Regions from separate parts of the Homo sapiens genome. Here all the other regions are linked to region 3. The links come from fine-mapping of genetic effects on gene expression. A gene starts in region 3. Each other region holds a variant in brackets. All regions are shown on one strand. Distances are from middle to middle. Region 1 overlaps ZDHHC17 (zDHHC palmitoyltransferase 17). Region 2 overlaps CSRP2 (cysteine and glycine rich protein 2). Region 3 holds the start of ZDHHC17 (zDHHC palmitoyltransferase 17).

Evidence for each region. PIP is the estimated chance that this variant, and not a neighbour inherited with it, causes the effect. A credible set is the group of variants that fine-mapping cannot tell apart.
Region 1: its variant is the best candidate, but not a certain one, in a credible set for the expression of ZDHHC17 in whole blood (INTERVAL, PIP 0.57).
Region 2: its variant is the best candidate, but not a certain one, in a credible set for the expression of ZDHHC17 in whole blood (INTERVAL, PIP 0.74).

What each region holds. Positions count from the first base shown.
Region 1 is chr12:76,817,925-76,820,690 of GRCh38, reverse strand. The region is part of intron 7 of ZDHHC17 (zDHHC palmitoyltransferase 17); the gene reads right to left. Among named protein-coding and RNA genes, the nearest start is that of ZDHHC17, 55 kb to the right of the region's middle. The variant C/T (reference allele first, on the strand shown) is at 1,556.
Region 2 is chr12:76,864,140-76,866,905 of GRCh38, reverse strand. CSRP2 (cysteine and glycine rich protein 2) reads left to right here. Exons shown (of 6, transcript NM_001321.3): 2 at 645-757. The coding sequence starts at 646. Among named protein-coding and RNA genes, the nearest start is that of CSRP2, 13 kb to the left of the region's middle. RefSeq lists a silencer at 1,650-1,759. The variant C/A (reference allele first, on the strand shown) is at 1,276.
Region 3 is chr12:76,762,919-76,765,684 of GRCh38, reverse strand. It overlaps ZDHHC17 (zDHHC palmitoyltransferase 17), which reads right to left and starts at 1,570. Exons shown (of 17, transcript NM_015336.4): 1 at 1,356-1,570. The coding sequence starts at 1,448. RefSeq lists enhancers at 1,223-1,372, 564-1,406, 1,382-1,676, 1,973-2,072 and a silencer at 1,423-1,832.

The DNA.
Region 1 (2,766 bases), 55 kb before region 3:
TTTCCTTGGTGACCATTTAGGTCAGGTATTTAAGAGGTAATACAAAACTATTTTCTAAAAACAGTTTCTTACCTCATTTCAAGAGGTCTTTCAATACATTAATGAACAGAGCTCAGTAATTTTATATTCTGTACAAGCTAAAAACTATGCCCTTTGATAATTTTAGAAAGAAAAGATTATAACTGCTTGTGTAGCACTCAGAGATTAACTGTTCCTTCCAAACTCAATTCATCTAAATTTATCAGTATAACCAAAAACATATGCTAAGGATTATTATTTTTTTAATCACAAATGAGATACTACCACAAAAGGGATTACTGGGTAGGCCATAATTGTGTTTTGTTTTTTATTCTTAGTATTCCAAATCATTTGTTTCCCCTGTTGTTGCTTTACAAGAAGAGATTTAAAGCTATTTCATGTAGCTATTATCTAGGGGCTTGGTTCTTAAATTCTTTTGAGTCTTTTCTGATGACAGCCACTTTTCTTCCTCCCAGAAGAATGCTGATACAAGTAACTTTTTTTCAACAATTTCAGGGGTCCATGGACCCACACCTCCTCCAACCAAAGTCTACTGGGGGGACTCCAGATAAAAAAACCTAGGGTATACAGCTATTCCTGATCCTTCCAGAGATGAAAACAGCAATTTTAAAGTTACCTATCATTTAGTATAAATTGTCTTTTTTTTTTTTTTTTTTTTAAGACATAGTTTCACTCTTGTTGCCCAGGCTTGAGTGCAATGGCACGATCTTGGCTCACTGCAACCTCCACCTCTCAGGTTCAAGCAATTCTCCTGCCTCAGCCTCCCGAGTAGCTGGGATTACAGACATGTACCACCACGCCCGGCTAATTTTGTATTTTTAGTAGAGACAGGGTTTCTCCATGTTGAGGCTGGTCTCGAACTCCTGACCTCAGGTGATCCGCCTGCCTCAGCCTCCCAAAGTGCTGGGATTACAGGCATGAGCCACAGTGCCCGGCCTCATTTAGTATAAATTGTCTTTAAAATAAGTTCTATCTTGTTTTGATAAAGGAACGTTTGTTTATACATGAAAAGAACTGAGTAACTAATATGTGAAGGTAAATCTCTAGTTAATATAAAGAAAGATTTCTAAGACACTTAATCATATATAGAAAATAGGTATTTTAGGGAAAGGGGATCTTATAGAATTATTATAACACAAAGCGTAATTTTTCATATTCTTTGAAAAATATAACTTTTTATAGCTATTAAAGCCATAGCCAGATTTGCAGGCTGCATCTTATCGTTACAATCCACTATTATCAACAAGATTCTTTCTTAAGACTTAAAAATGGAAAAAGCATAGGTATAAATAAATTTGGTTAGATTCCTGGACAAATATTCTAGGTATTTTTTTAAAATAAATGTTTCCTTTTCAAAATTGGCAGCAATTTAAGTTTACTTAATTAGCTTAATAGTTCACACGGCTAAGACACCACTTCAAATTAAATATTACCAAACAGAACCAATTCCTATCACCTTCATCCCAAAAAGTCCTTCTTCAGTCTTCACAATCTCAACATATGATATCACAAGACG[C/T]TCAGTTACCCAAAACAAAACCTAAGTCATCAACGATGGTTTCTTTTATCCTCACACCTAATCTACCTTCTTATTTCTACTTTAAAATATCCTCTCCAAATCCAGTCATTTCTCTCTACCTCTACTCCTCTGATCCTAGGCTAAGCTAACATTATCACTTGTCTGATTTATTGCAACAGCCTAACTGATCTCCATCTTTTCCATTTTCTTAACTCTTCAATGCATTCTCCATACATCAACCAAAGTAATGTTTAAAAAATATTTAAAACAAAAAGCAGATCATATAATCAGCCTACATAAATCCTTTCAAATGTTTCCCATGACTGAGAATACAATTAAAGCTCTTTATTATCGCATTGCATGATACAGCACCTGTGTTTCTCAAGTGACTTCACCATCTTGCTCACTGTACTCTGGCCACACTGTCCTTATTTCTGCACCTCAAATACTGCAATCTTACTCCTGTTTAGGACCGTGCACTTGCATGTTCCTCTACAAGGAAAATTTTTTCCCACATGTCTCTGTATAACTGATCCCTTCTCATTACGTAATTCTGAAAGCAAATGTCATCTCCTCAGAGGCATTCCCAAATCACTCTCACTGGATGTGGTCCTTCCATCCCAGTCATTCTATCACATTTGCCTTTTATTATTATTCACTTACTGGCTGTTTCCTCAACAGAATGTACATTCTGAAAGAATAGAGACCTTATCTGTCTTGAACAATGTGACTCCCCACCACCCACCATTGAATAAGAATTTGCTGAACGAATAAATACATGGTTTCTATTAGAAGGTGATAAGACTTAAGTATGTTGGGAATGCCTCTGAGGCAGATCCCCATTTTTAAAAAAGGCATTTGATACTCATTTCATCTTTTTAATTACATATAAAGTGCATTTTAAAACAAAAATCTACTTTGTCACCAGTGTAGATACAGGTAATTTTTCCCCTGAAAGTATAAATGTTCCCTGAGCAAATACAATAATTCCTTAGACTTTATTTTCTTTAGAAGTACCATCACTCCAGAAGCTACCAGGGAATTACATGAGAAAAATTTTTTGTCAATAGCCAACCTCTATTACATGTGACAGATAAAGTTAAAACATTAATAAAAAGAAAATAACTGGAAAAAAATGAATTTAAAAGCTCTAAGGTACAATAATTAGCTCAATTATAGACACTGTAGACTCTGGAAAGTATTCGCATGAA
Region 2 (2,766 bases), 100 kb before region 3:
TGGATGGGCGTTTGTTGTGGTTACGGCAAAAGTTCCGTGCATGCAGTTGTACGAGTCACAGACACAGCTATTTATGCTACAATCGTGTAATTTCAGCAAACAAATATAAAACTTGTTCTTGCAGGGCAACACACTTTGTTCCCTAGAAAGCGTGTTATAGCTTATATATGTTAAACGTTAAGAATTTAGTGTTGTTACAATTAATTAAACATGTAATGAAAACCTCCACCCAAGGGTAAGATCTTCAGCTGAGTTCAAAAAAATATGTTTATTAAAAATGGGCATATTAGGGAGGGGGACAAGGCTTGCCTTTCCCCTCCCCACGCTTCTTTCTTAACTCCTGTGGATTCTAATGGCATAGCTTGTTTTGTGCCTGGTGACCTGTACTATTGTACTGAATGCAGGTCCTTTGTCTGGCAGGAAAAAAAAAAAATCTTGTGCACGACAAGCCAGTTTCCTAATGAAAGAGTTGTTATTTGGGAGAGGAGATGAGGTTATTTTGGAGGAACGCAGGCCTTTGAAAGATGTGGTTAGAGAGGTTCATAAAGAAACGAAAATCTGCAGCTGTCCCTGGGCTTAAATAGCCCTCTAGGGAGCCGTACGACCAGCACAGGGACATTCTAATGAATCCTTTATTCCTTCAGAATGCCTGTCTGGGGAGGTGGAAACAAGTGTGGGGCCTGTGGGAGGACCGTGTACCACGCAGAAGAGGTGCAGTGTGATGGCAGGAGCTTCCACCGCTGCTGCTTTCTCTGCAGTAAGTAGCTCTCCATGCTCCACCTTTGACGGAATTTGTATGTACAGAGCTTCAATATGTCTATTTAAGGAAAAATTGTGGTTTTGCCAACAAAGATCATTTTGAAAGCACGAATGGTTTTTACCTGTCTTCTTAGATGTTGTAAATGCCAAGCCTAGCAGCGAAGACAGGAGGGGTGGCCCAAGACACCCAGCCTCCCTTTGTGTCCCCATAGCTTTTGGCCTCCATTTTGGCCTTTATTTTGTTAACACATCTGCCTCCCCCACCTCACTGAGTGCTGGGTGTCACTTATGTGGTCTGGCACCTAGCACAGTTTCTGGCACATTACAAGGGCTTAGCTCCCATTTTTGAGTAAATGATTGCTCCTCATCCACCCCAGCTTTCTCTTTCTCAGGTTCCCTTTAATGACAACAAAGTCTTCGGTTTTAAAACTGTAGAGTAGCAACTTAAAGCACTTCATTAATCATCTTCTGATTTAATGACAGAATTTTCTTTAATGAATGATTATGTCAGGTAAA[C/A]CCACCCATACGGGCAGATGTTTGCCTTATCAATAGTATTGTACAGGGAAAATTCCTACAGAAAACCATAGGTTAAAAATAGGTTACATTGAGAAATAATCTTCAGGAAAAGACTTCTTTCTCAAATTTGAATTGTCCTTTTCCCTCATTGGAGCCAGCATTCAAGGTATCTGGACCTCTTTAATAGCATAACTAAACTGCTTTGCAGACAACCAGAAGCAGACAACAGAAAGTTGCAGTTACAAAAAAATAAAAATACTACATAGGAATGTTCACTATGTATGCCTTCCTCAGAAGACTTGGTTTAACCATTGCTTTTAGAAGTTACTTTTTTAAAAAAGGAATCTATTTTTCAGCAGGCTTGTAACCAAGAAAGTATGGAAACAGAATGCAAATACTTTAGAAATTGCTCTCAGTTTCATCTGTCTAGGTTAAGCCACAATGTCTACACCATAGTAACATATGCGTGTATGCTGTTGACATTTGTTTTACTAAATGTCAAGTTCTCTACTGGTCATTTCTACGAATCCTTTCTAATATCTGTCTCTGCTGACTAATGCCTTTTAAGGAAATAATTCAGAGTAGTTTGCAGACCTATGAGAATTTTACTGCAGAGAACAGCATGAGGACTGGGGAAGAAAGGGGTGGTTATATAGTAACACTTTCATATACCTACACTTGTTTTGGTTCATACAGGTTTTTCAAAACAGTATTTACATTTATTCTCTCTGTTAAGGGTAGTTGTCCTTCAGCAGTGCATGGTGTTAGGTTAACTATGGTTTAAGATATAGTTATCTTTAGGCACATGTATTTCAGCACTTGAGCCTCAACAGTTAGATTCCAGAGTAGATGCCATTTCATTCTACCATAGAAGACTTTAGTTTAAGATAATAGACTAAATTTTAAACCAGCCAGCTAGTCCTGCTTCCCTCCCCTCCTCTTTGCTGTCCTTCCTTTTGTCCTCCTTCCTTTTTATTCAACCCCCCCCCTTTTATTTTTCTTACTTTTAATTTTTATGGGTACATAGTAGGTATATATATTTATGGGGTACATGAGATGTTTTGCTACAGGCATACAATGTATGTTAATCACATCATCTTAAATGGGGTATCCATTACCTCAAGCATTTATTATTTTTTTGTTACCAACATTCCAGTTAATACTGTCTTATTTTTAAATGTACAATGATTGTTGACAGTAATCATCCTGTTGTGCTATCAAATACTAGATCTTATTCATTCTAACTATATTTTTACACCCATTAACTCTCCTCACTTCCTTCCCGACACCCTACCCTTCCGAGCTTCTGGTAACCATCATTCTACTCTGAATCATCATACAATTGTCTTTTAAATAAGGGGAAGAAATTCTGATCTTTGATTTCCAGCTGCCAGATTGTGCTACCAGTGAGTTTCCTCACAATTTACTTTTTTCTCAAGCTTAATTGAAGTTTTAGAAAATGAAATAATGTCTGGATGAAACTCGATGACA
Region 3 (2,766 bases):
AAATACTTTCACGAATACTTTCACAGGAACAGATGAATAGAAATCACTTAGCAACATTTTCAAGGCAACATCTGAAAACTACTTTGTCTATTTCCTGACGTATGTTAGGGCCTAAGTGAACCAAAAGAGATGTCTACAATGCCAGTTCTGAAAATGTTACCACTTTGGTCAGACAAGTGTTTAGTCTTACTGTATAGTTCTGTTTATCAGAAACCCAGAGTAGCCTTTTCTACTGAGACTGGCACAGGTATATATTCCGAAGGAACTGTCCCATGTGTTTTTGATAAACCAAAGTGACGAATGAGAGGGTGGTTGAGTGTTAACATGCAACATAAAAGGATGGTTGTCATTATTCACTTTTTAACAAAAACTAGTGGCATGGTACAAACCCAAATCCAGAAAAAAACAGAATCACTCCATTGCAAAGTAACCAGGTAGAGACTTCCATGTTTGTTCATCCTACAACACGACTGTCATCTTTTAACCTCATGAAAACTACCCGAGTTCTTCAGCAAACTGTGCCGCTGCCGCATACAGACATCACTGTGGATCACTAAAAATCAGAATGCATCAAGAATTGCTTCCAAGCCTTAACTAGCACTAGCTCAGCTACAAACTCGGAGGTAAACAAGCACAGACTGACTGACTGTGGAGCGGGGCACTGTTTACTTACATGGGAAGACACTCATGTTGTGATGGGAAACGTGTTGCACTGTCCACCCCTAGCTCCTAGAAAAACGGTACTTTGACAAGCTAATGTGAGTGTAAGTCTATTCCCAAAAGTTTTTACCTCTCTTCTTAATCGCTTAAGGACAAATGCTCAAAAAAGGACGCCCGACACAAGGTGCCCGAGGTGCTACCCATGGCATTACCTGGAAGGACATCACTATGCCCATGAAACTGTCCCCTCACAGTGGACTAAAAGGAAGCAATAGATACCGTCATTCACCCTGGCGAAGGAAAAAGAAATCAAAACCAGACGCGCTTCCACCTGGCCCCAAGAGGCTTGGAGCAAGACTAGGGTCTAAGCTGCGGTTCAAAAACCACACCAGGCCCCTCCGCCTCTGCTCTCAAACGCAGCGCGGCGACACAGCAGAACCATCAACACCTCCACCTCTGTCCTCCAGGCACAGCCAGGGACTGCGTCCCAGAGCCCGCCCCGGTCGGGCCCGCCCCGCTATCTCCTCCCCCGTTATCCGCTCGCAGCCGCGCTCAGGCCTGGATTCGCCTCCCCACCCTCCCCAACTTCGGCACGTCCCACTACCCCACACACGTCGGCCGCCGCCCTCGGCGAGTCCGGGGAAGAAAGGCTGGAGGGCCGCAGGGCAAGGAATCCACTCAGCACGGTTCCTCACCTCTGGGTGGAGAAGGGGCACACAGCCCGCTTCGGTATCGTACTCATCCGGGCCGTCCGCCATCTTGGTGTTAAATCCCTCCTCCCGCTGCATGCTGGGAGAAAGCGTTTCACCCTCCCGGGGCTCGGGCGAGGCGGAGGGCGAGCGCGGGGCGAGCGCGAGCCCCGCCGGAGGCGACGCGGGCCTCCTCCTCCTTCTTCTCCTGCCCCCGTGACGCCCCCTCTGTCCCCTCCCCCCTCGGAGGGCGCGGGTTTCTCCGCGCGTGCGCGGAAGCGCGGCCCGGCCCCAGACTGGATCGCGCTCTGCTGCACTGCGCTGGGGACGGCGGAGGGCTCTGGGCGTGGGCCCCGCGGCTCGGGGGCGGGTCCCGGCTGGAGGTAGATGTGAAGCTCTGGCTGCCCGGGGGAGGCGGCCGGGCGGTTGAGACAGTCGCTTGGGAAACCTAGCAGCTGCTCAGGAGCGAGAACAGAGCTCCGGAGCCGCACGCAGCACAAGTCTGGAGCCCCAGGCAGCCGAGGAGCCCACGCCCACGCGCTCCCACTTCCGCTCCGGGACCCCCGGGACCCCTCTTCAGGAACTCGGGCAGAGTCGTCAGCCAGCTCCAGGGAGGTTTGGGCCCGTCAGGCTTGAGTCGAGACCTGCATCATTCCTGAAGACAAAAGCAGCTTCCCTTTCCTCCACACTTGAAAAGGTCACCCGCAACCTGTCCCTCCGGGGGACGCCCGGAAAAACATGGATACAACTCGGGACTTCCTACTAGAGAACCCTTTTTTTTTTTTTTTTTTTTTTTTTTTTTTTTTTAATGAGACAGAGTTTTGCTCTTGCCGCCCAGGCGGGAGTGCAATGGCGCGATCTCAGCTCACTGCAACCTCTGCCTCCCGGTTCAAGCGATTCTCCTGCCTCAGCCTCCCGAGTAGCTGGAATTACAGGTGCACGCCACCACGCCCGGCTAATTTTTGTATTTTTAGTAGAGACGGGTTTTCACCATGTTGGCCAGGCTAGTCTCGAACTCCTGACCTTAAGCGATCCGCCCGCCTCGGCCTCCCAAAGTGCTGGGATTACAGGCTTGAGTCACCACACCCTGCCGAGAACTCTTTTTAAAATGATCCCAACCTGCTCTCAATCGTCTTGAATTAGTACCACACAAAAAATTTACGAGCTCAAAGCCCACACACCGCCATCTGCAACATTTCGATATAATCCAGGAATTCAGAACTGAAGCCACTTAAACTGAATTCGCTTAAATGCAAGGCAGATAAAATGACTAAAGCCATTTTTTAAAGGATTTTAGGGCGGTATGGGGGAGGTGCTCCCTGTAAATGGGCTGATGGGACAGTTTTAGATAGCATTTGTCTTTCCTTTTAGCTGTTAAAAATTGTAAGTCTAAACAGCTGAGAATTTAGCAGAGATC